Regions from separate parts of the Homo sapiens genome. Here all the other regions are reported to be linked to region 2. Evidence: microRNA targets listed by miRTarBase, many of them from high-throughput screens and not tested one by one. Region 2 holds a microRNA gene; each other region holds the end of a gene's coding sequence.

Region 1 (7,496 bases), not on the chromosome of region 2:
GTCAGGGAAGGGCCTGCAGAGATCATGGGCCCGGAGCTGCATCTGGAAAGATGACTAGACTCTGACAAAACAGAGTGAAGCCGAAGGCCAGGCAAATTTAGTAAATGAGTAATTCCATAAATTGGGAAAGAGAGGGAGAATAAAGTACCATTTGATGCTGTTTTCTTAAGTGTAGATTTTCCCTATTAATTGACACTGGGTATTAAGGGATAAGATAAGCACAGGGCTAAGCATAGTGTCTGACCCATGATACAACCTCCACAAATTTTAGCTATTATTATTATTTCTAGATTTCATCAGTAGTTTTCAAAATTAAATAAGAAACTGTCATATCCTGCTCTGACCAAAATACTGTCAGCCAGTTTGATCACCCGTACCTCATGTGCCAGCTTTGGTTCAGAATAACTTTTGTCAGTTTCCACAAATCAAATCCGACCTCGGAGTATGAAGATTTGCCACCACTGAAAATATTTAAAGACCAGGCATGGTGGCTCACATCTGTAATTTCAGCACTTTGGGAAGCCGAGGCGGGTGGATCACTTGAGGTCGGGAGTTCGAGACCAGCCTGGCCAACATGGTGAGAGCTCGTCTCTACTAAAAATACAAAAATTAGCCAGATGTGGTGGCACATGCCTGTAATCTCCGCTACTCGGGAGGCTGAGACATGAGAATCACTTGAAACTAGGAAGCAGAAGTTGCAGTGAGCTGAGATCACATCACTGCACTCCAGCCTGGGTGACAGGGCAAGACTCTGTTTCAAAAAAGAAGAAAATGTTTTAAAAACTTGCAGCAGGTTTTGAAGGCAATTCTGAAAGATGGGTCCTAAAATGTTTTAAGCAGCAGGGTAGGTGGGAGGTACGCTAAACACATTGACAAAGCCAGCTTCTAGGGGAAGTCCTTACTATTCAAGATATGTTTTCCACATTGTACCAGAACTAAGCATGCACTGCCCTACTTCTCCTTTATGATTTATGTGCCAGAATAGGGATTGGGGTGAGCATCCTTAGCTGCGGTTTTCAGAACTTATAGATGTGAGAAAGCGGTCTGTAAACAAAGGGAAAGTGGCATTTGAGTTCAAGCCAGGGGATCTGGCCAGTGTCTTATTCATCTTTATATTTCTAGAGCATAGCATGATGCCTGGACTACCATAGGAACTCAATAGATGTTATGAATGAGCCATGAATTCTGTCTTGTGTCCCTTACAGAACCAAGTCGTCATTGCTGCTGGAAGGAGTTCTTTGGGAGCCCGACTCTCCGGGGCACTTCACGTCTATAGCCTTGGCTCAGATTGAAGATTTCACTGCATTTCCCCACTCTGCCCACCTCTCTCATGCTGAATCACATCCATGGTGAGCATTTTGATGGACAAAGTGGCACATCCAGTGGAGCGGTGGTAGATCCTGATAGACATGGGGCTCCTGGGAGTAGAGAGACACACTAACAGCCACACCCTCTGGAAATCTGATACAGTAAATATATGACTGCACCAGAAATATGTGAAATAGCAGACATTCTGCTTACTCATGTCTCCTTCCACAGTTTACTTCCTCGCTCCCTTTGCATCTAAACCTTTCTTCTTTCCCAACTTATTGCCTGTAGTCAGACCTGCTGTACAACCTATTTCCTCTTCCTCTTGAATGTCTTTCCAATGGCTGGAAAGGTCCCTCTGTGGTTATCTGTTAGAACAGTCTCTGTACACAATTCCTCCTAAAAACATCCTTTTTTAAAAAAAGAATTGTTCAGCCATAAAGAAAGAACAAGATCATGCCCTTTGCAGGGACATGGATGGAGCTGGAGGCCATTATCCTTCATAAACTATTGCAGGAACAGAAAACCAAACACTCCATATTCTCACTTGTAAGTGGGAGCTAAATGAGAACACGTGGACACATAGAGGGAAACAACACACACTGGGGCCTATGAGAGGGCGGAAGGTGGGAGGAGGGAGAGATCAGGAAAAATAACTAATGGATACTTAGGGTGATGAAATAATCTGTGTAACAAACCCCCATGACACACCTTTATGTATGTAACAAACCAGCACTTCCTGCGCATGTACCCCTGAACTTAAAAGTTAAAAAAAAGTTGAACTTAAAAATAACAGATTGGCCCATGCCAATCAAAGTATAATAGAAAGCATAGTATACAGAAAAAAAAAAAAAAAAGAAACTGAGGGAGGAAAAATAGTACAGAGTAAAGCATGGGGGTGAGGGATAACCTCACATTCCAAATCACTTGTGACTTAGTCCTTTTTAACTTTTATTTTAGGTTCAGTGGTACATGTGAAGGTTTTATCTTTTCTGTTCCTCCCACCTTCCCCACTCAAGTAGACCCCAGTGTGTGTTGTTTTGTGTTCATAAGTTCTTTTAACTTAGCACCCACTTGTGAGAACATGCTATACTTGGTATTTGGTTTTCTGTTCCTGGTCGTGTGTTAGTTTGCTAAGGATGATAGTCCTTTTTTTTTTTTTTTTTTTTTGAGACGGAGTCTTGCTCTGTTGCCCAGGCTGGAGTGCAGTGATGTGATCTCAGCTCACTGCAACCTCCGCCTCCCAGGTTCAAGTGATTCTCCTGTCTCAGCCTCCCAGGCAGCTGGGACTACAGGTGCACAATACTACGCCCGGCTAATTTTTGTATTTTTAGTAGAGACAGGGTTTCACCATGTTGGCCAGGCTGGTCTCGAACTCCTGATCTCAGGTGATCCACCCACCTTGACCTCCCAAAGTGCTGGGATTACATGTGTGAGCCACAGGACCTGGCCGATAATCCTTTCTTAATGAGGATTAATACCTTTTCAATGTTTATATAGTGAAGGACAAATATAAAAACCAAGACTATCACCCTTCTGTGCCCTCCAATACTTTTGTAGAGTTGGCTGTTCTAACACCTAAAGAGCCTAGCGACACTGCTAGTTTTAAGCCATCTCATGAGGGACCTTTGTCGCATTAGGTTACAACTTGTGCCAAAAGAACTAGAGGGAAAAGATGTGGCCTGAGCCACACGCTACTGTAAGGGCCGGAGAGGAAAGCAGGCCTTGGCCTCGCTTGTTCCTGGGCTGTTTTTCGTAGGATGGATTTCATTTGTCAGTCCTGCAGCGTGGCACACTTAAGGGAATGGAATGTATCATAGGGTTTCAGTTTCAGTAAACATTAGCGGGCATTATCTGTAAACAGTAACTAGTTTATTTTGTGTTAAATTGGGAAGAACCTCTTTCTTCTGCCACGGGTGAGATGATACTAAAAGCAGGAGAAAATAACAAATGAGAAGAGCCCTTCTCTTCTCAGCTTCTCTCAAGAGTAGAGACTGGTGAAAAGGGGACAGGAAGAGGAATCCAGCTGAAGAGTGGAAAGTTAACAAGAACATCAAGAGGTACATCCCTAGAGAGCATCTCTGGGTCACTCCCAGGATGACCTCATTTTTCTGGAAGAGGTACATGTGCTAGCTGCATAGTAACCTATGGCACAGCAAAAGCACAAGGAAGCGCCATTTGGTTTTGTTTAGGGACAATTATTGGTAGCCCAACCTATCTGAAGAATTACTTTTAATTAAAAGGATGGTTATTTTTAGGGGACCAGAAATTACTTAGTTGTATTCACTTATGAGTTGAGCAGTTAGAGCACTCTGACATCTGACACTTGAGTAAAGGGATGTTTTTCTCAGTACTGGGTCTTTTCATTAGACGGATGCATTTATATAGTGTCAGTTTTTATGCTTCACTAAATGATAAGGCCTCTGTTTAAACATGACCATTATTTACCTCACGATTTATATTTTTCTCAATGCCTGAATACACCCAATAGCAAGCACCAGGTGGAGGTTAAGACCCACAAAAATGGAAGCAAGCTTCAAGTTTATAGGACATTTAACCATACTAACCCCAATGTCAAAAACAATGTAAATTATACTCCTACTGTAAAAGGTCAACTGATATGGCACGTATGTAAAAAACCTGGCATACAGGAAAAAATTAATGCATGACAGTCTAATATATTATCCTGATACATGGATTAAATTTTCTTTCCACTAAGTATTAACTATAGTTTTAAGCATTGATTCTGCTTAATAACTAAAATGTAAAGACCTTACCTTGTAGGGTTGTAATTTCTCATTAACAGAAATCTGAACTTATACAAGTTTAACTGAAATTTATCTTTATTTCAAGATATCAGAAGACATTTACATATTTGCATTTTCTGTCTTGCTACTATCTGCGTATATGTAACAGCTTTTCTCAAGGCTTCAAGATAGGAATTGTTTTATGCCTTTGTATCACAGACCTAAGAGACCAAAATTATTTGAAGATGGAGTGGGGACAAAACTAGGGTCTCTGCAGTCCCTACTCCATGTACCATCCATTAGCTCACCTCTGTAGGTATTACTAAAGTCATGAGAGTTAAATCCAACGTGCAACTTTAATATTGCAATTCCAAAAAATAAAGCTGTATACAACTCTTGGAATAACTCACCAAAATAAATAGCTTTTTAATATAAAATTGGTTAGTGCTGCTTAACAGTCTGTGTTCATGAAGAATAAGGTGTTAATAATTGTGCTCACATTTGTTTAGGAGCCTTCCAAAGACAGTATCACACCTTGACGTGTTCGACACTTGATGTGTTTGACAGGCGATATGATTGCTTACTCACTCACATAACCCAGTGTTTGGTACCTACTTTCAAACAGTAATTAATGTGCTCAGTCCATTTTAGTTCAAAATTTAAAACCAAGGAACTTCATATATTTTTGGCATAAGCTGATTTATTATTTATGAGAACTTTAGTATAAGAAGCATCCTGCAATCACAAAAGTGGAACTAGTTGATATTTTGAAATCATACTTGATTTAACCACCTTCAGAAATTCTATAAAACACTAGCAACTTCCTTTTATCAGACTTATGAGGTAGTTACATTATTTTTCCTTTTATTGACATGATTCATCAAAAAATTATTTTATCCAAGCTCATAAACTAAGTCAATAAAACTGCAAGGAAAAATGACAAAAATTCTATCTTATGCCTGATCTTAGTCAAATCAAATGTTGCCCTCTGGGATTCCAATTCTTCATGTCACAGTTAAGTAGTACTTATTATGTATTTTACAGTGATACGACCCAAAATAGCAGCAGTGTGCTCTGAGGTGTGCCAAAAGTGTGCCCTGTGAAATATAAGTATTATCAAATACAATCTTAAAAATCCTAAGAGATTCGTAATGCTAGAGGGTGCTGTATGTTCACATTCCGACAAGAACACCATGACGCGTGTTCCTGACCCACAGTGTGGTGGCACAGGGGCCACTGCGTGCTCGAGTCTAGCCCAGCCTGTCCTGTTCCATTCTGTTCTGCAGCTTCCCTCTAATGGCTTCCCATGACCACACACAGGAGTGGGGAAACCTTACTTGTACTTCATCGGTTTTCTTCCAAATCAGCGACGGGAGTAACATTTTTATTCCTATCACCAAACCACCTGAAAAATGGACTCCTAAACTTCCTCATATGACATCACATTAGGCTAATCATGTACCCTCAATATCATCAGGGTAAGTGTATTTATTCTGTTATTATTACATTTGTAGTGCAAGAGCTGGACACTCTAGAATCTTCCATGCACACTACTTTGGGAGGCTTAACAAATGTTCTAGTGCCTAACTGTACTTAACCTCCAGAAAATATTTTAAAAGGTAGGTAGGATGTTAAAGAGGATGGCAGCTTTCAGGCTTACAAATATTAGCCATTTGTTTTAAACCCAAATCTCTGTGGAAATGAGAAGATATCACAGTTCTAACATTTATTCATCCTCATGTTTTAGGAAGCTCATCTGTCAGCTTCTGAGGTGTAGGCATATAGATTAGCAGGACAATAAACATTTTTCTTTTTGGGGCAGGGCAGGGGTGGTATCTAAATATCTACTTTAAAAATCAATAAATGGACAAAGTGCTACAAAACAGTAACAGAATGGAAATACTTCCTTTCAACTTTGCTTCCAAAGGCTCTAATTACAGAGAGCAAAGAAAACTAGTCTCAGGGGCTGAGAACGTGAAATCTTGATTAGGAATCCATACAATGGTGATATTAAATTATTTCTTTTTATTCACCTTTTATAAAAAAAAGGGGGCAAATACAAGAAATAAGGTTATGTCAAAGTTTGGTTTTTAAAGCTCAAACTTACAGAGTCTGTTGTAAGGTTAATACATAGAATGCTAGCTTTTTAGTCACCTGAGAATCAGGAAATTCACATGAACATAATTCCCTATACTGACAAAGAACTATAGCTACCTATGGGCTTGTCAAGTTCCTACGCTTCATTCAGCATGAAATTGCACTTTTCTTGATATGTATAAATTAAAATCTATGCAACTGTCTGTGCTTGTGTTGCCTCATATCACATCTATAAAAACAGCATTTAAAGTTTGTAGGAAATAGAATTTTGGCCTTTTACAAAGCAAATACTTTGTTTCTTTAACTCAGAATTCTGGAAATGCAATCCAGTTCTGGTATTGTGACTGCCAAAATATTTTTGTCTTCAAACATTAGTTTTTTTCAAGTGTCTGACTCTATACAAGAAAATAATAAAAAGAGTATCAGAAGTTTCCTGTAACTACCATAAAAAAAACTTCAGTATCCACGGGGCTGTTCCTAACGGTTTGTTAGGATGCTCCTTCCTGATCCAAGTCCATCCAGTCTGAGGCTATTTTTCAATTCCATGCTTCTATCTGCCAGAAGAGTCTTTTTAGGTAAAGAAGCCATCTAAATAAAGCAGAAGTATTAATTTTAGTATCTTTTTTAAAAGAAAAGCCACTAGTAAAATGATGTATTATGTAACTACTCAGTGAAGAAAGGACTATAAGCAGTATCAGTGTCTTAAGTATTTATTCCAGTGGTGCCATCTTCAAGTACAAAGAAAATGGAGGTGAATTTTCTATCTTTTAAGAACGTTATAAATGTTTCCTACATTTCCATTTGGTTATGACAAACCTTATACCAGAATTACTAACATCTGTTTAAATGTATGTTGTCAGAGTTCTACACAAATTATATTTCTAACTTATTGTGTTAGGCAGTGTGCTAGTAAGTGCTTTACACATATTGTTTAATTCTTCCCATAACCCTATGAAGCAGGTAATACCGACTTAACTGACAGATAGGGAAACTGAAGGAAGTTTGAGAAAGCAACTCGCAAGGGCCATAGTGCCTGTGACAACTTAATCCCAGGCGCTCTGACTTTAGGGCCCATGATCATAACCCTTCCACAATACCGCCGTGAACCATATCCTTCATACCATAGGAGGCAATGGAGCTTCTAGCTGTCGTCCAAGGAATGAAAGCAGGCGCCTCCAGATGAGGCCACTTCCCATGAACATAATTCCTGTAATCAGCCAAAAAATTCTATGGTCCTAAAAGAGAACACAGTTCATTTCCATCGCAAAACGCCAGGTTCCTTAGAAGATTCCTTGAATTGTTACTGCCCCAGAGTTTGAAAGCCTTATGTTATTTGTACAGCTC
Region 2 (7,496 bases):
CCTTAGGATTCTTACAAGCATCATCTTCTATAGCTCAGTTGTGTTTGCTGAATCATTTTTGAAATGCCATTTATTTTTCGAGTTTTCCAATTTCAAGCTAAAAGAAAATAGTGATTCATTGTATTTTTTTAAATACATGGTCTTGACTTCTTTGCCATTAATAACTGTGTTCCTTTCTTTCTGATGAATTATGACTTTCCTTTTGACAGTTTTGAGGTGGAAAGAAATTGGTGGATTTGGTGTATAGCATTTTAGGGTTGAGGCATGTAGAGGGTGTCCTAAAGGATTTAAGAGTTGGATGTCTCTGAGTGCAATAAAAGCACCACCTGTTCTCAAGTCAACATCTCCATAAATACAGTAAATAAGTAATAATAACTCTGTCTGTACAATTTATTTTCTTCAAAGGCATATTTAATCAGAAGTCTGGACTAGTTGAGATTTAAGGGTCATGGACTTTTATGTTATCCTGTCTTGTTTTATTCTTAATGCAATTCCTAGTGACTATAGTAACGTGTTCTCTTGGGTTTAAAGATTTATTGAAAGTCTAAAAACAATTCCCCCCTCTTTTTGGCTTATGAAATTATTTTATACTAAAGATTCAAAATAAGAGATTTCTTGATAAAGTAGGTTGGGGGCTTGGTCAAGAGGATGCTGTCAGTTTAGCTTGTCAGTGATAGTTAACAGGTATGCATTTCTAGACCTTTGATACATGAAAGCTTAATTGTGAGTGTGAAATACTGGAGTACATTTAAATCTCTGATTCTAGAAGCCCTTAAACTGCTTTGGTTTCATAAAGCATGTAGCATATAATCATAATATCACACAGAAGATGCCCAGGACTAGGAAGAAATTAGACTGCATAAGGAAGAATGGAAATTTAAAATAAGACTAAAAAATACAAAATAAGAATTAATGAAATAGGTAGCTAATTTATTGCTTTGAGTCCAAGGCAAGGCTAGTCTAATGAAGCAATATATGGAGGCAATTAAGAAAATAGTTCAGGTAATTGCTTTGTTTTTTCCCCAGGAGCAAGAAGGTTTTTAGTTTCCCCTTTAAACTATCAGAGTAATTAAACATTTTTTTTTTTCTGTTTCACTTTACTAATAATCCTGGCCTGACATTGACGAGCGGGAAAATATTGATTTTATTTTACTGTGTTTAGAAATATATCTGTATGTATGTATTGCAATATTTTTACATTTGCACAACTATTACAAATGGTCTGTGTATCTCGGCTCCCACATGGCTGTTCATAGAGGTCTAGGTTTAGCAGTTGAACTTGACCATACTTAAAAGCAACTTTTTTTTTTTAAATCATATTGTGTTATAATTGCCTTTTAACTTGTATGGCTCCCTAGTCTTTCTCAACATGGAGAGAATTGGCACTGATGCCCTAGGACATGCATTGTTAGTAATAAATTAACATTTTCCTGCGCAGCTGGAGTGAAGGAACCCTAATTGAGAAAGGCTGTCCTAGACAGGGACAGTTCACAGTGTGTTCTTAGCTCCTAGCACAGTGCCTGGTCCCTAGTAGGTGTTCAGTAAAATATTTTTTGAAAGAACAACTTTTGTATGTATCCCATAAATAATAACCTTTACTTACAGATAGTGATTATTGTAAACCCGCTCTTATGCAGAATGAGCAAAGAATGAGTTCTTGTTAGTTGGGGTATACCGTATACATTACTAGTATTCTAAGAATTAGAATAAATACATCTAATGCCGAAAGCTATACTGACCATAGTATAATCTTTTTTTTTTTCCTTTTTTTTGAGATTTATTATGGGAATTGGATCATGCAGTTACAGAGGCTGAGAAGTCCCAGGATCTGCCATCTGCATGAGCCCGGCCACAAAATATCCCCTTCTTTTATTTATTTTTATTTTTATTGTTATTTTTTTTGAGACAGAGTCTTACTCTTGTCATCCAGGCTGGAGTGCAATGGCACGATCTTGGCTCACTGCAACCTCCGCCTCACGAGTTCAAGCGATTCTCCTGCCTCAGCCCCCCTAGTAGCTGGGATTACAGGCGCCTGCCACCACGCCTGGCTAATTTTTTGTATTTTTTAGTAGAAACGGGGTTTCACCATGTTGGCCAGGCTAGTCTCGAGCTCTTGACCTCAGGCGATTTCCCTACCTCGGCCTCCCAAAGTGCTGGAATTACAGGCAAGAGCCAGCATGCCTGGCCTCTTTCTTAGATGATTAAGGCATTGTATGGTTTTGCAGAGCAATTATCATTCAGCAAATATTCACTGAGCACCTACTATGTGCTGGGCACTGCAGTCAATCCTGGGGTCGTAGATGAGCAAGACAGACAAGGTTCCTGTCTTCCTGAGCTGTAATTATCATTACATACACAACTATAGATATAGAGGGCATGGTAACTGCATTGCATTGAATACATTTGTGACATACCATGAAATTTGATCTTTGTGAATAAGTTACTATTACATACTTGTCATTTTTCTTTCTACTAAAAATAGATTGTACAATATCAGTTATTTTCTGGTTGTTTGGATGTCAGTTAAAAAGGAGTTTCTTGCATTTGTCTCCTTTCATCTGACCTACGCATGGCAAACTGCTCTTTTGCAAATAGATGCTAGGCTGACCCCACGCAAGGTGGGAAACTTATTTAGAAATGAACCACTGTAACTTGAAATAAATCTTTACACAAGTGAAAGCAGGTTTTGTCTTCTTTTTTCCTGATCTACCTTTTAGTGACTAAGCAACATAAAACTCTGAATGTGTCCTGAATACTTTCTGTAAGTGTTTACTGTTTGTTCCTTTTGTTTATGCTTATTGCTAATAATTCAGCCATTTAGTGAGTAATATTGAGTGCCTATATACCAGGTAGTTTCCAGTGTTCCTAATTAACTTTTAGCTGAATTGAGATTTGGGCAGGTGAAGCTGGCCATTTTTATATTGATGCAACTGTTCAAAAGAGCTTGTTTTTTCAAAAAGCTGCCAGTTTACCACCTGCTGAGCAGTGGGTTCTAGGAGGTAAAGGATGGCCAGTGGCCCCTGAAAGAACCATAACTAACCTTGCTGTGTCTGCATGATGTGCAAAGAACTAGCCCACTGAGTGAAATCAAATACTGGTTTGTTGAGTGATGGAAAAAATCAAGGCTCATTGCTTGTCTAACATGGTTATTCAGTTCTCTCAAAGAGGGTGAATGCATGGGATATAAAAAAAAAATACTATTTTTTTCTTCAAGGTGGTGGAATTTCCTGTACATCTGTAGTGCTTTATACAGATGAACCTTTTACATCTGGAACCCTCGAGACTGGGGGAGTTTTTCTGGTTAGGTGGAGGGAGGTTCTGGGCTTCCACAAATGAATTAGGTGCTGGCTCTCGAGTTTATTTCCTTTCACTTAACATTTACCTTCTTGGCCTGGTATAAGGGTAGATTAGCGGTGATCGTAAAACAAAACATACTGGCACAACTGCAGCATATGTTAACACTGCTGCAGCTTAATGATGAATGAGTGCTCAGCACTGCAGATATGGGCACAGGATGCCCTATGCCCACACATTGGCAGACAGCCCCTCAATTATTGCAGTGTATGGACGGATTACTGGGTCGGCTGACTTCTTGATAATAGAAGATGTGATTTATAAATGATAATGGACCGTGGATTTCCAGATTTAGAAGGTTAACCTGTATTTGTGAAGTAGAAATCATTGATTTCTTGTGCCATATGTATTTAATGGAATATGGGAGGATTGGTGATGTTGATGATATTGCTGTTCAAGCAGATATCATCATTTGTTTTTTAGACGTCTCTATTATATGTTGTCATAAAGTATTAATGTGGCAATGTTTTCCTAGTCCCTTTCTCTTTACCAAGGTATTCTTGGAAAAATCAGAAGTGTTCTTGAAAATGATCTTGCAGTTAGCACAGCATCAGGTAAACAGTAGATGTTCAATTAATACTTGTTTAATTGTTTTGAGCTGAATTGGTAACACAGTCTGAGTCAGTAATAACAGATGAAGAATGATCAGTTTAGGAAGCAGCCACCAAGAAGCTTATGCATTTCAGACTGGGCTACAAAATTAGCCAGGAGTGGTAGCACAGGCCTGTAATCCCAGCTACTTGAGAGGCTGAGGCGGGAGAATCACTTGAACCTGGGAGGCAGAGGTTGCACTGAGCCGAGATCGTGCCATTGCACTCCAGCCTGGGCAACAAGAGCAAAACTCCATCTCAAATAATAATAATCCTGTATGCTTACTATAAATACAGATTCCTGGGCCTTGAACTTACTGAATCCAAGTCTTGGGTGACAGACTCCAAGAAACTGTTTTTAACAAGCATTCCAAGTGGTTCTTAGGTTCACTAAAATTTGAGAACAGCAATATATAATATAGTAAACACGGAAATATTTATTTTCTGGGCACACTCTCTGTTCACCTTTTTGAACTTCAGTTTCTTCATCGATAGAATGGGAATAATAATACCTATTTCACAAGACTGTTGAAAAAAACGTTTGGTAGACTATTCAACACTATACCAATTGTGACAGAGGTCCTCAAAACCGGCCTAGGTTTGTTGATTCACTGGCAGAACTCAGTACATAGAAACGCTTGCGGATGTGATTTATTATAGCAAAAGGATACAGAGCAAAGTCAGTAACGGGAAAAGGCTCATTGGGGCCAAGTCTGGAGGAAACCATGTGCAAGCTTCCAGTCCTCTTTCACTGAAATCACACAGGTCATGCTTAATTCCTCTAGCAAATGAGTTTTGACAACTTGTGTGAAATGTCTACTAGGGAAGCTTATTAGAGATTCAGTACCCAGGGTTTTTAGTGGGAGCTGGTCACACAGGCACCCTCCACCTGGTACACAGCAAAATTCCAGACCCCAAGGAGGAAAGCAGGTATTCAGTGTAAACCCTATTGTTTACACAGCTTAAGCAGAGTGAGCCACTCTTATCAGGGTGATGGAAACCCTCCCAAAATCCAAGTCCCCAGACACCAGCCAAGGACCAACCTTGCAAACAGGCCTTACTAAGAATAGCAGTGTCAGGCCTGCTATGTTAACTCTTTCCATCACGCAAATATTGTGAAACACTGGTATTTTTTCAGTGAAAGGAAATGACTTGTCCAAGATCATTAAGCTAATCAGCAGTACAGCTGAGACAGACTCCCAGCAATCACATCTTTTCTTTGCTGCCCATAGCCATGCTTCTAGATTATGGGTCATTCCTTTTCATACTGTCATTGAAAGCACTTACTGTTTGTCACTTGAAGCAGAAGAGCAGCCTGCCGGTGGTAAATTGATGCACCCAGTGGGGGAGCCAGGAAGTATTGATGTTTCTGCCAGTTTAGCGTCAACACTTGCTGGTTTCCTCTCTGGAGCATCGCCAAGTTCGTGGATTTTCATTTTTCCTGACTTTTGGACTTTTGTTACTGCTCCCATTCATTTGCTCATAGTCCTAATACTCATTTGCATCATCACTTCATCCCATTCTATACCTTTTGGGTAACACAATTTCCAAATGGTGGGAATACTGCAGTATTTTGTCAAAGAAGACTATATAGGAAAAAAAAAATTCTGAGCAATGAATTTTATGGCAATATTTACAAATATTGGTTTATATCCTGGATTGTCTTTTGAGTTTTATAGTCATGGAAAACCCTAGGGATATCTCTGGTTATTTGGAGTTTCAGCCATTTTTACTGTTATAAAGGAAAATTAACAAATTTGTTATGATTGGAGCAAGGAATAAGGAAATCATACTGGATGGTGCAGTAATCCCACATATCGACAGGGAGTAGAAGCCAGGAGGGAATTGCCACAAGTAAGTAACAGCTGGGTAGAGCAGATTATGTAAGCTACACCTGTTGTGTAAGCAGTGGGGACGTTCTTTAAGCTTCACAATTAATGTATTTTGCAGTAATAAGGATTAAGGGATCTATAGTATAGTGTACAATTTATTCTGGCTTCTTTTCTGAAAACATTCATGTGAATCACAGCTTTCTTGGAACACTCATCCCCTATTTGGTGCTGTAGAGGTGTGTAAGGTACAGCCCTGCTCACCAGTAGCCTGCAGTTTGGTAGAAGAGAGAGAAGACCAGCACACAGGACCATCCTCCACACAAGGCCAGTAGGTCACCAGAGCCATCCTTTTGAAGGACATACACAGTAAGTGCAGTAGGCATTCAGAAGGAGGCACTGGCTCTCTGGCTTCATTTCTTGGGGAGAGCTTTATGGAGGAAGTAGCCTGTCAACTGGGCCTCTGGGGACCCAAAGGGCTGAAGGTTCTGAGATTTTAGGGATGGGCAGTCTCATTACAGGAGGAGGCAATTACCTGAGCAATGGTGCAGGGTCATTGTTGTACTTAAAGCATGGGAACCAGTCAATTTAGAGAACATACATGCCAACCCCAAATGAGTTTGAGCTGTTATAAAAAAAAGTATAACAGGTGGGGCTCAGTGGCTCACGCCTGTAATCCCAGCACTTTGGGAGGCTGAGGCAGGTGGATCATTTGAGGTCAGGAGTTCAAAACCAGGCTGGCCAACATGGTGAAACCCCATCTCTACTAAAAACAAAAATTAGCCAGGTGTGATGGAGAGCACCTGTAATCCCAGCTACTCGGGAGGCTGAGGCTGGAGAACTGCTTGAGCCAGGGAGGTGGAGGTTGCAGTGAGCAGAGATGGCACCACTGCACTCCAGCCTGAGTAATAGAGCGAGACTCTGCCTCAAAAAAACAAAACAAAACAAATAAAAAGTATAACATAGATTCAGTGGCTTATGCACAACAGAAATTTATTTCTCACAATCCTGGAACTTGGAAGTCCAAGATCAGGATGCCAGCATGGTTGGGTACTGGTGAGGGGGCTTCACGTCGCAGACTGGTGACTTATTGTATCTTCACATGGCAGAAAAAGAGTGAAATGAGCTCCCTAGGGCACTAATCCCATTTATGAGGGCTCCACCTTCATGGCCTGATCACCTGTCAGATGCCTCACCTCCTAGTACTGTCACCTTGGAAGTTAGGATTTCCACATAAGAATTTTAGGGGAACACAAACATCCTGTCCATGACACAGCAGAAACACCAAAACCTCGATCTTCAATGCCTTACGTTTGCTGTAGTAATTTTGATTTTAAAAAAGGAGATGCTAAAAACAGGTGGCTTTAGGTCTCCACAACAATAGCTATAGGAATCTTCCCATACATAGATGCTCTTTTCTGAAACCTATGACTCCAGTAAATTTATGTCATTTAAAAAAAATGCATATATATATATATATATATATATATATATATATATATATATATATTTAGAGAAGGAGAGAGAGAGAGAGACAGTCTTGCTCTGTTGCCCAGGCTGGAGTGCAGTGGCACAATCTCGGCTCACTGCAACCTCTGCCTCCTGGGTTCAAGTGATTCTCCTGCCTCAGCCTCCTGAGTAGCTGAGACTACAGGCGTGTGCCACCACACCTGGCTAATTTTTGTATTTTTAGGAGAGACAGGGTTTCACCATGTTGGCCAGG
Region 3 (7,496 bases), not on the chromosome of region 2:
GGTTCAAATCTTAAGCTCTTTGCTTCCCAGATATGTGTTTTTGGGGAAGCAACTTAACTCCTCTTAGTGTCACTTTCTACATCTGTAAAATGAACATAAAAGCAATTTCCATCCCCATGAGTATTAAAAGAGAAATGCAAGTCGAGTTTTTAGCAATTTCTATTGTTATTATCCTTACATAAAATGTCTTTCTAGGTGAGCGGCTTGTCCAGGCCTCAGGAATGTTGGTGTTCCCTTTCCTTAAAAACTCCAGCCTATAAGATGGTGCAGAAATAAACCCAGGAAAACTGGAGACCAAGCTGGCTTCACCCAGACTTACATGCCAGTTCCTAGAACAGTCCCTGGTGTAAGCAGGTGCCCAAGAAATAGTCACTGAATGAATGAAAGTGCTTACATCTCCCATCAAGTGTATCCACGAGGTACTAGCTTTTAAAAACCCAGCTTCAGAGCCAGAACTCACCAGTGTTGCCCATCGGACACAGGCCAGAGTTCACGGCAGGCCTCTCCGATGGCCAGGTGCCTGGGAGTGCGGAACCAGATATGGAATGGGAGACAAAGAAGCCAACCTCAGATAGGAATCCTTTCGAAAACCCAATCTGTGGCCCTGTTCATTCGTGATTCCCAGCTCTGGTTTGCAACATTTGCCTCAGGCACCGTTCACGAGAGGCTTTTAGGCTACTCCTCAATTTCTTTGCAAAGGGCTTTAATTGAAAACACGTTTCTATGCCGCATTTCTATATCACAAAAAGCAACCCAGACAGGGCTGTGGCTCCCCAGAGACTAGAAGTCATTTTCCTAAGGCCATTAAGTTGCAGGTAAAATGAATGAGTGTGGATGAGTCACAATGTCTGTCCCTGGGTCATGTAGATGTGTCTTCTGCATCTAGATCTTTGTGATTCTCTTACTTGGGTGTGAAGAGCTGGACTAACCAGCAGAATCCCAAAGAGAAATAATGAAAACAATAATCCCAGCACTTTGGGAGGCCGAGGTGGGCAGATCACCTGAGGTCAGGAGTTCAAGACCAGCCCGGCCAACGTGGTGAAACCCCGTCTCTACTAAAAATACAAAAATTGGCCGGGCGTGGTAGCACACGCCTGTAGTCCTAGCTACTCAGGAGGCTGAGGCAGGAGAATCATTTGAACTTGGAAGGAGAAGATTACAGTGAGCCAAGATTGTGCCACTGCACTCCATGCACTCTCCAGCCTGGGTGACAGAATGAGACTCCGTCTCAAAAAAAAAAAAAAAAAAAAAAAGAAATAATGAAAACAAATAGAAGACTGGCCTTTGGCTTTTATATTAATAATAAACACTATGACCTACTAGTCTAGCAACTTTGCATCTTAGCCCTCATACAAATCTGTCCAGATGAACACCAGTATCATCACTTGTTAGGTGAAGAAACAAAGACTCAGAGAGATGAAGGAATTACCCAAGGACACACGGCGAGAGAGTCAGATGTGGGATCCTCCAAGCTCAGATTCACTCCACTGCTCCAAGCTACTTACTTTCTCGAAATCCTGCATCCAGGTCCAAGGCTCTCTGACCCTATGTGAATCCACATCATCAGGAAAAAAAAAAAACAACGAACCTTTTAATATCTGAAATGAAATGCCATGTACTGTAAAAATTGCTTTCCACATGGGCCTATCCAAGACCACCACCAATAGTGGAACGAACAACTGCCCATTCTGAAGGGTTCTGTGCTGAGACTCAGCAGTTGGAGAATGATTCTGTAGTGGGCTGAATGGTGGCCCCCCCAAAATATATGTCCATATGCAAATCCTGTTAAAACATGTATTGCTTTATATAGCAAAATATGTGATTAAGTGAAAGATCTGAAGAGAAGGGATATTTATCCAGGAGTATCTAGGTAGGCCCAAAATACAAAAACATGTATCCTTGTAAGAGAGAGGCAGAAGGTGTCTGGGGACAGACAAGAGGAGAAAGCGATGTGAAGATGGAAGCAGAGATTGGAGTGATGTGGCTTCAATCCACGGAGTGCCAAGGATTACAGGCAGCCACTGGAAGCTGAAACAGACACGGAACAGATTAGCCTCCAGAGCCTTGGAGGAAGCTCGGCCCTGCCACCACTTTGATTTCAGACTTCTGGTTTGCAAGGCTGTGCAAGAGCAAATTTCTGTTGTTTTAAACCACCACATTTGTGGCGATTCATTACGGCAGCCACAGGAAACATACGCCCTACTAATATGCAAACATCTTTGGCTAAGCCCCGTAAGAGGCCGAAAGTGATGTGGCTGGGAAAGTGAGAGTTATCGTTTCCCAGACGTTGTTTCAGGGTCTCTTAGTAACAAAAAAACCCGCAGATCCACTCTTACAGATGAAATTAGAAGATGCTGAGTTTGAAAAGAAACTCTTGAGGTAAGAAGAAATCAGACAGAGAGAGGAAGTGCCGAAGGGCAAAGACTTGGCTGGGCATTTGGAAGACTAGAGCTTGGGCTGCTGAGAACACAGGCCTGGGGGAAAGGAAGTTCCATCTTGGGTGGAAGGATCCTCCAAGTACCAACCAGGTGTTGTAAGGCAGGCAAGCGTGTGACTTGGTGACCCCCATTTTGATTTTTATAGAGATCGGCACTCGGGCTGGCTGACAGCAGAGGGACTGACCCCCCTGCCCTTTTTCTGGCCTTTGTAACAAGGGCAGTGGGTTACATCCCAGCATGGCCGAAAGGATTAAGGTCACCACCACCCTGAAAGTTGTGAGAACACAAAATTTGGAAGGCTCATGGAAAGTTTCCATTTTGCTGCTTCCTACAATACGAGTGTTGAGTTGGCCAACCTCATTCCTTCTTTCCTTCAAAAAATGTATATCAAGCACCCCACTGTGTGCCCCGCACTAAACCAAGACCCTAGCATACAGCAGTGGCACGAAAGCCACAATCCTGTCATCCTGGAGGGCTCTCTAGAGAAATGGTTTTCAACTGAGGGTGATTTTGCCCCCCAGGGGACATCTGGCGATGTCTGGAGACGTTTCTGGCTGTCATGACTGGCGGTGGGGCAAGCGCTGACAGGTTATCTAGTGGGTGGAGGCCAGGGGTGTTGATAACATCCTACAGTGCAGAGGTCAGACCCCCACAACTAACAATTATCTGGCCCAAAATGTCACGAGTGCTGAGGTTGAGAAACACGGTGAGGCTGGAATGACCTAAGCAGACGACAGCCACTTTCAAAGGAGACTAGAAGACAGAGGCCTGAAAGACCACACAGGAGGGAGACAGGCAACCCTCAGGGGCTCCGGACCAATTCCCCCAACAAAGGGACGTCTTCGTCAAGACCTGAAGCATGAGGGGTTGTTTTCCAGGCAGGAAGAGCAAAAATGCTTTTAGGTAAGCTTAACTCTGTAGTACAGCCAGAGAGGAAAGGGAGTGAGCGAGTGTGTGAGGCAGAGGAGGTGGGGGAATCAAGGAAATCCTCTGAAAGGACTGTTCCCTCACTTCTGTTTTGGAGGGGAAGGGCTGTCTTTATTTAAGAGCAGGGGCCCGGAGTCAGATCTGAATTTAAATCCCAGCCCCACCACCTCCTGTGTGGCCTTAGACAAGGCACCTAAAACCCTCAGTTTCTAAATCCATTTTCAGAAAATGAAGCAGAGGGTGGCGGAGGAGAAGAATGTCTGCCTTAGGTGGTAGTGTTAGGATTAAATGAGAAAATGCACATAAACAGCTTGGCACACTGCCACGAATAACAGATACTGTTCTTATTTGTGTTTTCAAAGGTCACTCGGCCCAGTGTGCAAAATAAAATGAGGAAGGACAACCAGAAACACTCCTCCCTGGGAATACAAAGCAAAGCAAAAACAAAATGCCGAGATTTTACAGAAGAAAAACTTGCTTGAGCAAAGCAGTTTCCGAGGGGCTCTTAAGTCCTTGATGCGATACTGTGGTCACCTTAAGAAACCACAACGGCAACACGAACAGTTCCATGCCCATTGAAATCGTCATCCTTTGAAGGTATAAATGTCCTAGATAAATGGAACAATGTGTCCATCCATCCATCTAGTCAGCAAGAGAAATGAAATCCAGGGGAAACCTTAGGGAAGATCTGTATCATGGCCCCTGCTCAGTGATGGTGATGAACTTGGGCTCTTACCAGGGTACAGCCAGAACACTTGGATCCCACATACAGCAAGGCCCTTCCACACACACCTTTCAGTGCATCACCTTAATCCAATTTTCTAAAAAGCTGCTTACTCAATAATCGCTCACTGCTAGAGAAAGGGCAGTTTGATACCCTTGCATCTCTCCCAGGATGCAACTCTTGGAGGTTAGGATGCTTTCACACCCATGATCCTTAACTGCTAAGGATGTGGTTTCTTAAGTGCACTCTTGGTGGACTAAGTCTCATTCACCAGAATTAAATTCTTTCTGCTTGCTACTGTGAGAGGATGAGTAGGATATTTCAGAGAAACTGGTTTATAGCCCCCAAAAAAGTGACATTTGCTCTGTAACTGTGCTTTGCTTTCAGCAACAAACTACTGGGAATGGCACGGTGAAATACTACAGAAGACACACACCAGGGATCCCCTTTGATACTGATCATCTCCATTGCAAATGACACATTATGCAAACCAGATACACCAAATGGGCCACGAGGATGGAGGGGAGGGGATCAACCCCTCAAAAGAGTCCAAGACCACGTTCTGGTATCTAAGTCATCACCTACACACTAACTGTATGGTCAAGTTCCAACGTGGGAATATGTTTTTCTTGATTACGGTAGGTCCAGTTTCCCTAGAGATAAAAATCCAAATCACAGAAACAAGTGACCAGCCTTTATCTGCACATACTAAGTTGCTTTTATTAATCCAGAACGGCATGCTACAGATACTGTACAGCATGAACATTTATTCATTACAAAAATGGCTTCCAAACCATTAAAAATGAACTTGGAATAAGAGCATAAAACGGAACAGTAACATCACAACTGTTAGGAAACATTCAAAGTATTCACAAAAAATGTTATAGTTAGCATTTTAATAAACCAGAGAAAAATCGGAGACAGTTTTACAATCGCTTCATGTCAACTACAATGGCACTGAATGAACAGGTTTCAGCTTTATACAGCATTTTGCAACATCAACATGCCTAGGTTTTTTTTATTTTTAAAGTCTGCTGCCTACTCGTATGTAATATGTGTACATAAAAGCGGCAGCTGGTTTTTCGTTTAAGAGTAATCTAATATACAGAATTTTGGCCCTTAAGGGTTTATACCTCTTCATTTAAAATGCTTTCTGGACAATCTGCTACCAAACACATTTTGTTATAGGTGACATTAAAACTACATACAAATCTACCTATGTAACATCACAGCAAAACATGATGAACAAAAATTACAGCATCAAAAAGAGGGAGAAAGCTAAATTCACTGAGAATTTTGGCACGTAAAGTTTTGTACACGGTCAGTCCGGGTCCTAAGGGCGCAGGGTAGGGCATCCCACTGGGAGTTCAAAGGGGAAACGAAGATGGTTCCCACTGCTGCTCAGACAGTGTCGCTAAAATTCCCTCACTCATTTTCAAGTCTTGTTTTACATAATGGCTTTTAAAGCAACTTTTGTTAATGCTACTGATCCTTAATGCAACTATTAATGTCCATTTGGTGACATCTGGGTTTCATACAGAAAAAAAAAAGTCAAAAAGGGGAAACAAAAATATATATACACATTTTATATATAAACTTAAAAACCTTGTACAAATGAGTTGTTATATATAAGATGCTTATGCTAAGGGGGAAAAAAACTTTATACAGTTTCAAGAAAAAGGAAAACATATTTAAAAAGGGACGACATACAGGTACGACAAGCAATCTCTAAAGCAATAAATACTACTGGCCCAACAGCGTTGTGATTCTATTAAGTGTTGAGTAGCGTCCCCTCCCCCCAAAAGAACAACACCATGGAACAAGGTATATTAACACATTTTTACCCTTTGTTTCTGTACATTTAAACAATAACAAGTAACATCACAATAAGAGTTGTTTCACACAGAAAAAAAAAAAAAAAGTAACGGCACTGCATTCATGGTGCCCTTACGGTTTAAAAACCAGATGTAAAATGATTGGTTCGCAAGCTCGTATTTAATACAAATAATACAGAACCAACTCCTTCTGGAGGGCTGCTTCAAAATTGCTTTTTTTTTCTTTTTGTTTTTTAATCAGTCTTTTAAAACTAAGCTATCCGAACTACATAACAGTTATGTATATATATATATTTTTTAAACGCTACAAAGACTTTAAACAGCTGTTGATAAAAATTTTGGTAGAATCATGAGGTTCTTCTCTCATCTACATATTTAAAAGGAGAAATTGAAATAAGAATGGGTCAAATATTGACCAATGAACTCGATAAACATCAACTAATGTAGCCACATGGCACAAAATTAAGAGAGTACAAAACAAAACCTTTCAAGGTGGGGGTGGGGGGCAAATTAAGAAAAGTGAAACAAAACCATAAACAAAGCAGCGGGGTTCACGACGCTAAAGCTATTCTAAAGACTTGGTGACGAGCGACAGCGGCTGGGGCTGGGTCCCGGCCAGGGAGCTGTGGGAATGTAAGGAAGAAGTCGACGGCTGTGCAATTGATGAGGAGGGGGCGGCAGGCTGCAAAGCGGCTGGGGGCAGGTCCAGGGCCCCGTTGGGACAGAGGGCGGAGGCCTTGTGGGTGGCCTCAGCGAGCAGGAGGGCGGGTGGCGGAGGCATCATGGACAGGTGGGCCAGGGGGTCGGGCTTCAGGGACAGCGACAGAGGCTGGGTCTGCTCAGTCTGTGACTTGGCGTCTCGGGGAGGGGAGCCTAGCAGGTTCGGGGAGGGGGGAGGCGAATCTAGTAAGCTTCCATCTGAAGAGGGTGGGCTGAGGCAGCTGCCTTCACCTTGTATGTAGCGAACGCACTTTTTTTTTCTCCTAGAAACAGGGGAGAGAGTTATCTGTGAATAGAGGGCACAGATGCCAAGGGAGAGAGTTACCTAATGCTCACACCCAAGCTGAGGTCACCTAAGGGATGTCCCACAGAGGTGGCACGCCCAGTGGTCCGAGGACAATTACAGTGGCGCCCCCCCAGGGTGGGTCGCTTACTTCACAGTGCCCAGATCTAAGCCTGCTCTGGCAAACAACTTATTTAAGAGTCTGAACTCTCTACTTGCTTCCCCCAACCCCTACTAAACACCCATGCCCCACCATGCCCAAATTATATACGAGAGCAGCATGGAGGCGGCCACCTGCAGATGGTGGCATCTATTTGCCAAAAAGTGGCTTTGTCCAAATTGAGAAGAACTGAAAAGCTCTTTTGGCTTAGACAGTCCCTCACTTTCCCATCAAGTTTCCTCGGCCCTTCACTCCCATTCCCACCACTACCACCCCCATCCCCCAGTGATGTGTGTGTGTGAGTGTGTGAGTGTGAGTGTGTGTGTGTTTAAAAGAGAAAGACAGAGCTCCTTCCCCAGCCGCCTCGTATCAATATGAAACTCTCAAAATGCTCACTGTTGAGCCCACA
Region 4 (7,496 bases), not on the chromosome of region 2:
GGAAGGGTTCCCCCCAAACGGTGGGTCTGGTCTGTTCCGGGCTTCACAGGAGACCAAGCAGAGAATAAGACAGTGCGGAGCAGGATGGAGGGCTCAGGGGTCTTCCCTGCAGAGGTTCCTGGGGGCGTGGCAGGGCTGTGGCTGACAGGGTGCTTCCTACGGTTTTTTCCAGGCCCAGAGGCCTTTGGGCCAAAGGCAGCCCCGCCGGTCCTTCTTTGAATCCTTCATCCGGACCCTCATCATCACGTGTGTGGCCCTGGCTGTGGTCCTGTCCTCGGTCTCCATTTGTGATGGGCACTGGCTCCTGGCTGAGGACCGCCTCTTCGGGCTCTGGCACTTCTGCACCACCACCAACCAGACGATCTGCTTCAGAGACCTGGGCCAGGCCCATGTGCCCGGGCTGGCCGTGGGCATGGGCCTGGTACGCAGCGTGGGCGCCTTGGCCGTGGTGGCCGCCATTTTTGGCCTGGAGTTCCTCATGGTGTCCCAGTTGTGCGAGGACAAACACTCACAGTGCAAGTGGGTCATGGGTTCCATCCTCCTCCTGGTGTCTTTCGTCCTCTCCTCCGGCGGGCTCCTGGGTTTTGTGATCCTCCTCAGGAACCAAGTCACACTCATCGGCTTCACCCTAATGTTTTGGTGCGAATTCACTGCCTCCTTCCTCCTCTTCCTGAACGCCATCAGCGGCCTTCACATCAACAGCATCACCCATCCCTGGGAATGACCGTGGAAATTTTAGGCCCCCTCCAGGGACATCAGATTCCACAAGAAAATATGGTCAAAATGGGACTTTTCCAGCATGTGGCCTCTGGTGGGGCTGGGTTGGACAAGGGCCTTGAAACGGCTGCCTGTTTGCCGATAACTTGTGGGTGGTCAGCCAGAAATGGCCCGGGGGCCTCTGCACCTGGTCTGCAGGGCCAGAGGCCAGGAGGGTGCCTCAGTGCCACCAACTGCACAGGCTTAGCCAGATGTTGATTTTAGAGGAAGAAAAAAACATTTTAAAACTCCTTCTTGAATTTTCTTCCCTGGACTGGAATACAGTTGGAAGCACAGGGGTAACTGGTACCTGAGCTAGCTGCACAGCCAAGGATAGTTCATGCCTGTTTCATTGACACGTGCTGGGATAGGGGCTGCAGAATCCCTGGGGCTCCCAGGGTTGTTAAGAATGGATCATTCTTCCAGCTAAGGGTCCAATCAGTGCCTAGGACTTTCTTCCACCAGCTCAAAGGGCCTTCGTATGTATGTCCCTGGCTTCAGCTTTGGTCATGCCAAAGAGGCAGAGTTCAGGATTCCCTCAGAATGCCCTGCACACAGTAGGTTTCCAAACCATTTGACTCGGTTTGCCTCCCTGCCCGTTGTTTAAACCTTACAAACCCTGGATAACCCCATCTTCTAGCAGCTGGCTGTGCCTCTGGGAGCTCTGCCTATCAGAACCCTACCTTAAGGTGGGTTTCCTTCCGAGAAGAGTTCTTGAGCAAGCTCTCCCAGGAGGGCCCACCTGACTGCTAATACACAGCCCTCCCCAAGGCCCGTGTGTGCATGTGTCTGTCTTTTGTGAGGGTTAGACAGCCTCAGGGCACCATTTTTAATCCCAGAACACATTTCAAAGAGCACGTATCTAGACCTGCTGGACTCTGCAGGGGGTGAGGGGGAACAGCGAGAGCTTGGGTAATGATTAACACCCATGCTGGGGATGCATGGAGGTGAAGGGGGCCAGGAACCAGTGGAGATTTCCATCCTTGCCAGCACGTCTGTACTTCTGTTCATTAAAGTGCTCCCTTTCTAGTCCTTTTTCTGCCCAGAAGTAGGTGATGTTATTGCCCTCAGCCCATTTCATTCTACACTGACTCCTTCCCATTCCCTCACCTGTTGAATTCTGGCTCCCAGCAATTGCATGGGTTTTTGGTCTCTGCCCCGGTCTTGTCACTGCTGCAGGTTCCTTTCCTGGTCTGGGCTGAGTGCCTATACCTACGTCTATTGTGATGTTTTAAATTTTTTATTCCAGGATGCATGGAGTCATGAAGCTGTCTGCTTTGTAGGATATAAGGCCATGGGCTTTAAGGTTGAACCACCAAGGTGCCCAGAGTCCATGGAGATCATCCTGGAAAGGTTTCCATGAATTGCTCAGTTTTACAGAGTACAGAGCTCATCAACCACACTGGCGGCATCTTAGCCTGGGAAATGGGAACCTGGAGCAATCTACAAGTTGCAAAGGGGATGTGTAACCCCCTGGTTTCTTCACGGGGAGGGGATGTATGGAGGTGGGGAGTCAGGGCCCAGAGAGGGATGCACTTGTCCAGGGTCACCCAAAGCTGGGAGTAGAGCTGACCCACCCACCAGCAGGATGCCTTTTCCTTGACACGGAGGGGAGTTTCTCTACTTCCCTCCAGAACGCTACCCCCTGAGCACTAGTAGGTTTGGTTTTGCAGAAGCGTTCAAAAATGGAGTCCTTTTTCATCCTCACATGGGGGCAGGGAGTGCAGATATTCAAAGGAACCAAGAACGAGAGTGGAGGGTGAGACTGAAGTCCCCAGGAGCTTAGAGGGGCAGCAGATGGCCCCTGTCCTTCCCTGCCTGGGAGCAGGGAGAGCACAGACACAGCCTTGGAGCATGGGCATTTGAAGTCAAAGGCCCTGGACTGAACTTCCGCCACCTCTTTGCTTAGTAGCTTGGGCAAGTCACAGGGCTTTGGTGGACCTGTCTTCTCTGAAATGGGATCATGCCCCATTTCCTGCTGTGTCTGCCTCAGGCCGAGGACATCTGTGTGGAAGAGCAGGAAAAATAGGGGTGTCCCCCTCACACCCTGTTGGGGGTAGTAAAAGGGGGGATAGTAAAAGGGACTGGGGGCCCTGGGGCTTCCCTGGCCTCCGTGGTGACTTTATCATATTATTTTAGCTGTTGTCCTGAAGGTTTGGGTGAGAGCTGCTAACCAGGTGAGTTACAGTAGGAGACAGACAGCATCCGCCAAGGGCAAACATTTCATGTTGGCTGGGCCTTCTAATCTGGTCCCTGAGTAACTGAGCTGGGGGACCAGGGAGGAGCCCGCCTCCTGCGGGAAGGCATTGGGAGCAGGCAAGAGCGTACACCCTCACCTTGTGTCAAGGCAAAAGGATGGACAAATATAGATTGAATCTCATCCCAGGCACCATTTATTTCCCTGTCCCTTTCTGGGACCCCTGAACTTCTCTTCCCAGAAGAGCAAACGAACCAAATCCCAGGCCCTTGTCCTGCCCCACAGTGCCTCACATCCCTTCGGAAGAGTCCAAGGCCTGGGGAGGGGCATCTTCAGCTGAAGGAGGACACAGGGTGTCTGCTGGGAAGACTGGCTGTCCCACAGCAGTGCCCAGCCTTCGCAGGACCTCTCTTGGTCTCTGTCCGTGGGTGACCCTGCTCCAGCCTCTCAGATGATGCTGGTCCTGCAGGTGCCCTGGCTCTGCTCCAAGTGGCTGGCCTTGGTGCTGTTGCTGAAGGAGGCCACGGGGTGCAGTGGGAACTCACGGAGGTGCCATTGCTGCCACTTCTTCTGAACCTCCAGCTGCACCTGCCCGGGAGACCAGCCATCAGCCCAGGAGGAGAGGACAGTTCTGTGCCTGGAGCCCTGCTCACTCCCCCAGTGACTCCACGCAGGCCCTGCCACTCCTGCCCAGCTGCCCTGTCCCCTAGCCTGCAGGCCACGCAGATTGACTGTTTCCAGCCCCAATGTCCAGTAGCTACTGAGGGTCCCCTCTCTCCTGGGCACATGCACCTGCAATCTCATTACATCGTGTCTTAAAGAAAGGACTTGTGCACCTTGGGACAAGTGTGTGCCCTTGACATTACAAGAGCAGTGGTGGGGAAAGCTAGCTCCCTGGCCCCCAGGCTGAGAGGAAAAGAATCCCGGATTAAGCCAGAGGCTGAGTTCTCTGAAGGTCTGGGGCACTGACAGGGGCTACTGGGCAGAGGGCCAGCTTAGAGGAGGGTGTGGTCTGAAGGTGTGGGTAGGGCAAGGCCTGACTCCACTCAGTGATGGGTCCCCAGTGATTTTAAGTGATTTAAGATGGGTCCCCACTTATTCCCAGGAAGCCACCCAAGCTCAGAACTGATCTGGGAACTAGGGAGTTTCTCTTTGTAAATTTCCTTCACAATTCCCAGCTGCAGCAGCTGAACCTTTGAAGCTAGGCTTGATATTTGATTTTTGGGAAACATCAAAGATCACTCCCATTCAAGTGCAACAAACCAGATAGATGGTCAGTAGTCACAGAAAGCCTTAGCTCATGTTAACCACATAGCTCTGTATGCCCAGAGCCTGGGGTCCTGACCCAGATGCTCCATGTGAGGCTCGAGTCCTCAAAGTGAGTGTGCAGTCTCCCAAGGAGTCAGTGCTCATCTGGAGGTCCCTAAGGATTGAGCTGCAGACAGTTCTGAGTCACCCGTTTCACATATGGGCAGACTGAGGCCCAGAACAGGGCAGTGACTGAGATCGCCCATTAAGCAAGCAGCAGGGCAGTCAGGAACCTGGGTTCTGCCCAACTTTCCTCCTGCATTTGCTGAACAGATCAACATCGGCACCAGGAATGCTTGTTAAAAAACACTTTCTCAGACCCCAGTCCAGACCTACAGAATTTATTTCTGTGGAATGAGAAACTAGGAACAGGGTCCAGCCATGGTTTGAACAAGCCTTGCTCCCATTAAGCAAATTCAGACTCCTAAAAGAACTGGCCAAGCCACCTGCCACCAGACCCAGGACTCCCTCTGACCCTTTCCATCCCCCTTCCTACCACCCCTCCCAGGTAGCTCCTTCTGACCCGGAAACCAATGGCTAGGAGCTCTCCTGGGTACCTGGGTGACCCAAGACTACTCACCTCCCCATTGAGGAAGCAGTAGAGGACGGCCACCACCAGTCCCTGCCAGAAGAAGAGAGGTAGCAGGGTTAGCACAGGTGCTCAGCATGCGGCCTGAACCAGCTGGCCAGCTGCACCCTCCCCAGGTCTCTTAATCACCAGCTACAGGCTCATTTCCCCACCTCTCTTGCCTCACTGGGAATTAGGCTACCTCTTGTGGGCTGCCCACGGTGGCCCTGGCTGTGCTGGCTCATCCAGCATAAACTGTGAACTCCTTGCAGCCAAGGGTAGGCTCCCTTTTGAACACATATGGTGTCAGGGGGGCTGCTAACCCAGCCAGCCGGGATCAGGAAGCTCACCTGGGAGCCACAGGGATGGGTGGCACCTGAAGTCCGCCCACTCTGCCAGGAGGAGTGCAGGCTGCCCAGGGTGAGACCCTGGGCCCTGTGTGGTCTTATTTCAAGATAAACTGGAAATCTGAATATGTTTAAATGTAGATAACTAATTCAAATTGAAAAACAAATGTGTAGGCAGAACAAACTATGTACAGGTCCCGGCCAGCCAGTGGTGAGCAGGGTTGGAGCTCCCTGCTTAATGGACAGGTGGGTGCACCTCCGTGCTCAGAGTTTTATGTTCCCTGGTGTGGCAAGGTCTGTGCCTGTAAGACCCTCCCTCCCTGGTATTTGGAGCTCCTGATTTCCTGATGGTGCCCCCAGGATCCTGGTGTGGAGCTCTGTCAGGGGAGGGACTCCAGGCTGGGGCGCCTGCTTGGAGCCTAAGAGGCCTCCAGATCAGCAGGAAGCAGTGTCTCTGCGGCGCATTCACCCTGCTCCTCTCCTTTCTCAGGGACCCACCTCAGGCCACCCTTCTCTCCCTTACGGGCCTGCCCTCCCCACACAGAGGCCTGACCTCAGATGGCCCAACTCCTCCTCCCTAGTCCCACCCAGGCCTGCCTGTAGCTACTTATGATATTGGAAAGGAACCTCGAAGGGTGATGAATCAGCTCATCGATGGTGGGCTTAATATGTACAACTTCTCAGGGATATTGGCATTTTAAAAAGAGTTAGTGGCGAAGCTGGAAGGGTTTGCTTTAGAATTTCAGGTATCAATGACTGCTACATAGACTGGGGACTATTTGAGGGGCAGAAACACTCAGGGCATCGGTTTCCAAGTATTGCTGCACATTAGAATCACCTGGGACCTTTTATCCAGGTTGCACTCCCCAGATCCCAGTAGCTGGGGGCATCAGCAGCTTTTAAAGATCCCCACACAGTTCCAAAAAACGGGCATCATGGTCCGGGAACTACTGTCAGAGAGGGAGTAAAAGGCACTTCAAGGCAGGCTTTGAAATGAAACAGACTTGGATCGGAGCACAGCTAGGCCTGAGTAATTGTAGGTCCCAGGTGCTTCATTTAACCTCGCCAAAGCTCTCGGAGGCAGGTGGGAGGATCTTCACCTCACAAGCGAGGGAACTGAGGCACGGAGGGGTTTAGGCATGCCTGGAGCTCTGTGTGCTTGGCCCAGAGCCACGAGCAGGCCAAGGATGCTGCCCGTTGCATGGGCTAGGGTTGCCTGGCCTCCGCTGCGCTAGGGTCCAGGGACACATTTTCACTGTTCAGGGGAGGGAGTTAGCTGTGCTCCAGTGTATATAGGGCAGGCCTCACACAAGCCAGCAAGTTTACTAATTTCCACCGTGATTCTGCGATCATTAAGGATGAAGACTTTGAAGAATTTTAATGACATGAAGAAATGCTCATGATGGGCATGATAGAGAATTAAACAAAACAAGCAAGATACAAAACCATACACATCATGATCCCAATTATGTGTGTGTATCTTTGTGGAAAGAAAAGAGACGGAAGTAAACACACCAACACTTTAACAGAAGTTATTTCTGGGTTATGACGTTCTAGATTTTTTTCTTATTATTTTTCTTTTTTTGAAAAACTTTTCCTTATTTCCCAAATTATTCACAATAAGCAAGCATTATTTATACAATTAGAAAGAGTGAATACATATTTTTTTTTGGAGACGGAGTCTCGCTCTGTCACCCAGGCTGGAGTGCAGTGGCGCGATCTCGGCTCACTGCAACCTCTGCCTCCCAGGTTCAAGCAATTCTCTTGCCTCAGCCTCCCGAGTAACTGGGACTACAGGCACACACCACCATGCCTGGGTAATTTTTTGTATTTTAGTAGAGACAGGCTTTCATCATGTTGCCCAGGCTGGTCTCGAACTCCTGAGCTCAGGCAATTCGCCTGCCTCGGCCTCCCGAAGTGCTAGGATTACAGGCGTGAGCCCCCGCGCCCGGCCATAAATACATTTTTAAAGAGTATATGACAGTGATGGTGTTATTACAGTTGTATGTGTTCTTCTTTAAGCCCCGTCTTTTAGAAATGCACACTAAACTCTTTGAAGATGAAATAACATGATGTTTTGAATTTACTTAAAAAGATGGGGGTAGTAGGTAGGGATGGAGATGAAACAAACAGGCCATGAGTGGATACCGCTGAGGCTGGGGATAGGTAATGGGGTTCATTGTCCTATTCTCTTCACTTTTGTATATGAAAAACATTTTCTCATGTGTGTGTATATATAAGAATATATATACATATTCTTATATATATATACACATATGTATATATACATATGAATATATACACATATGTATATATACAT

The links. The annotated mature microRNA hsa-miR-505-3p reads CGUCAACACUUGCUGGUUUCCU and lies in region 2 at 5,326-5,347, shown strand. An mRNA with a match to its seed (bases 2 to 7 or 8) in the 3' UTR can be bound and repressed. Matches are read on the target gene's strand: a 7mer-m8 pairs with bases 2 to 8, a 7mer-A1 pairs with bases 2 to 7 and ends in A, and an 8mer does both.
Region 1: the mRNA of GPLD1 is a reported target of hsa-miR-505-3p. The part of its 3' UTR that is shown has no 7-base or 8-base seed match.
Region 3: the mRNA of TCF7L2 is a reported target of hsa-miR-505-3p. Seed matches in the 3' UTR shown: 7mer-A1 at 5,030-5,036.
Region 4: the mRNA of TMEM37 is a reported target of hsa-miR-505-3p. The part of its 3' UTR that is shown has no 7-base or 8-base seed match.

The regions. Positions count from the first base shown.
Region 1 is chr6:24,422,828-24,430,323 of GRCh38, reverse strand. GPLD1 (glycosylphosphatidylinositol specific phospholipase D1) reads left to right here. Exons shown (of 25, transcript NM_001503.4): 25 at 1,206-4,492. The coding sequence ends at 1,292. MRS2 (magnesium transporter MRS2) reads right to left here. Exons shown (of 11, transcript NM_020662.4): 10 at 7,274-7,387; 11 at 4,134-6,740. The coding sequence ends at 6,630. Among named protein-coding and RNA genes, the nearest start is that of MRS2, 24 kb to the right of the region's middle.
Region 2 is chrX:139,922,011-139,929,506 of GRCh38, reverse strand. It overlaps MIR505 (microRNA 505), which reads left to right and starts at 5,276; the gene lies at 5,276-5,359. The region is part of intron 1 of ATP11C (ATPase phospholipid transporting 11C (ATP11C blood group)); the gene reads left to right.
Region 3 is chr10:113,164,966-113,172,461 of GRCh38, reverse strand. It overlaps TCF7L2 (transcription factor 7 like 2), which reads right to left. Exons shown (of 15, transcript NM_001367943.1): 15 at 4,784-6,907. The coding sequence ends at 6,490. Among named protein-coding and RNA genes, the nearest start is that of SNORA87, 120 kb to the right of the region's middle.
Region 4 is chr2:119,436,717-119,444,212 of GRCh38, forward strand. TMEM37 (transmembrane protein 37) reads left to right here. Exons shown (of 2, transcript NM_183240.3): 2 at 173-1,788. The coding sequence ends at 724. It overlaps SCTR (secretin receptor), which reads right to left. Exons shown (of 13, transcript NM_002980.3): 12 at 4,842-4,883; 13 at 3,127-3,541. The coding sequence ends at 3,401. Among named protein-coding and RNA genes, the nearest start is that of TMEM37, 8.6 kb to the left of the region's middle.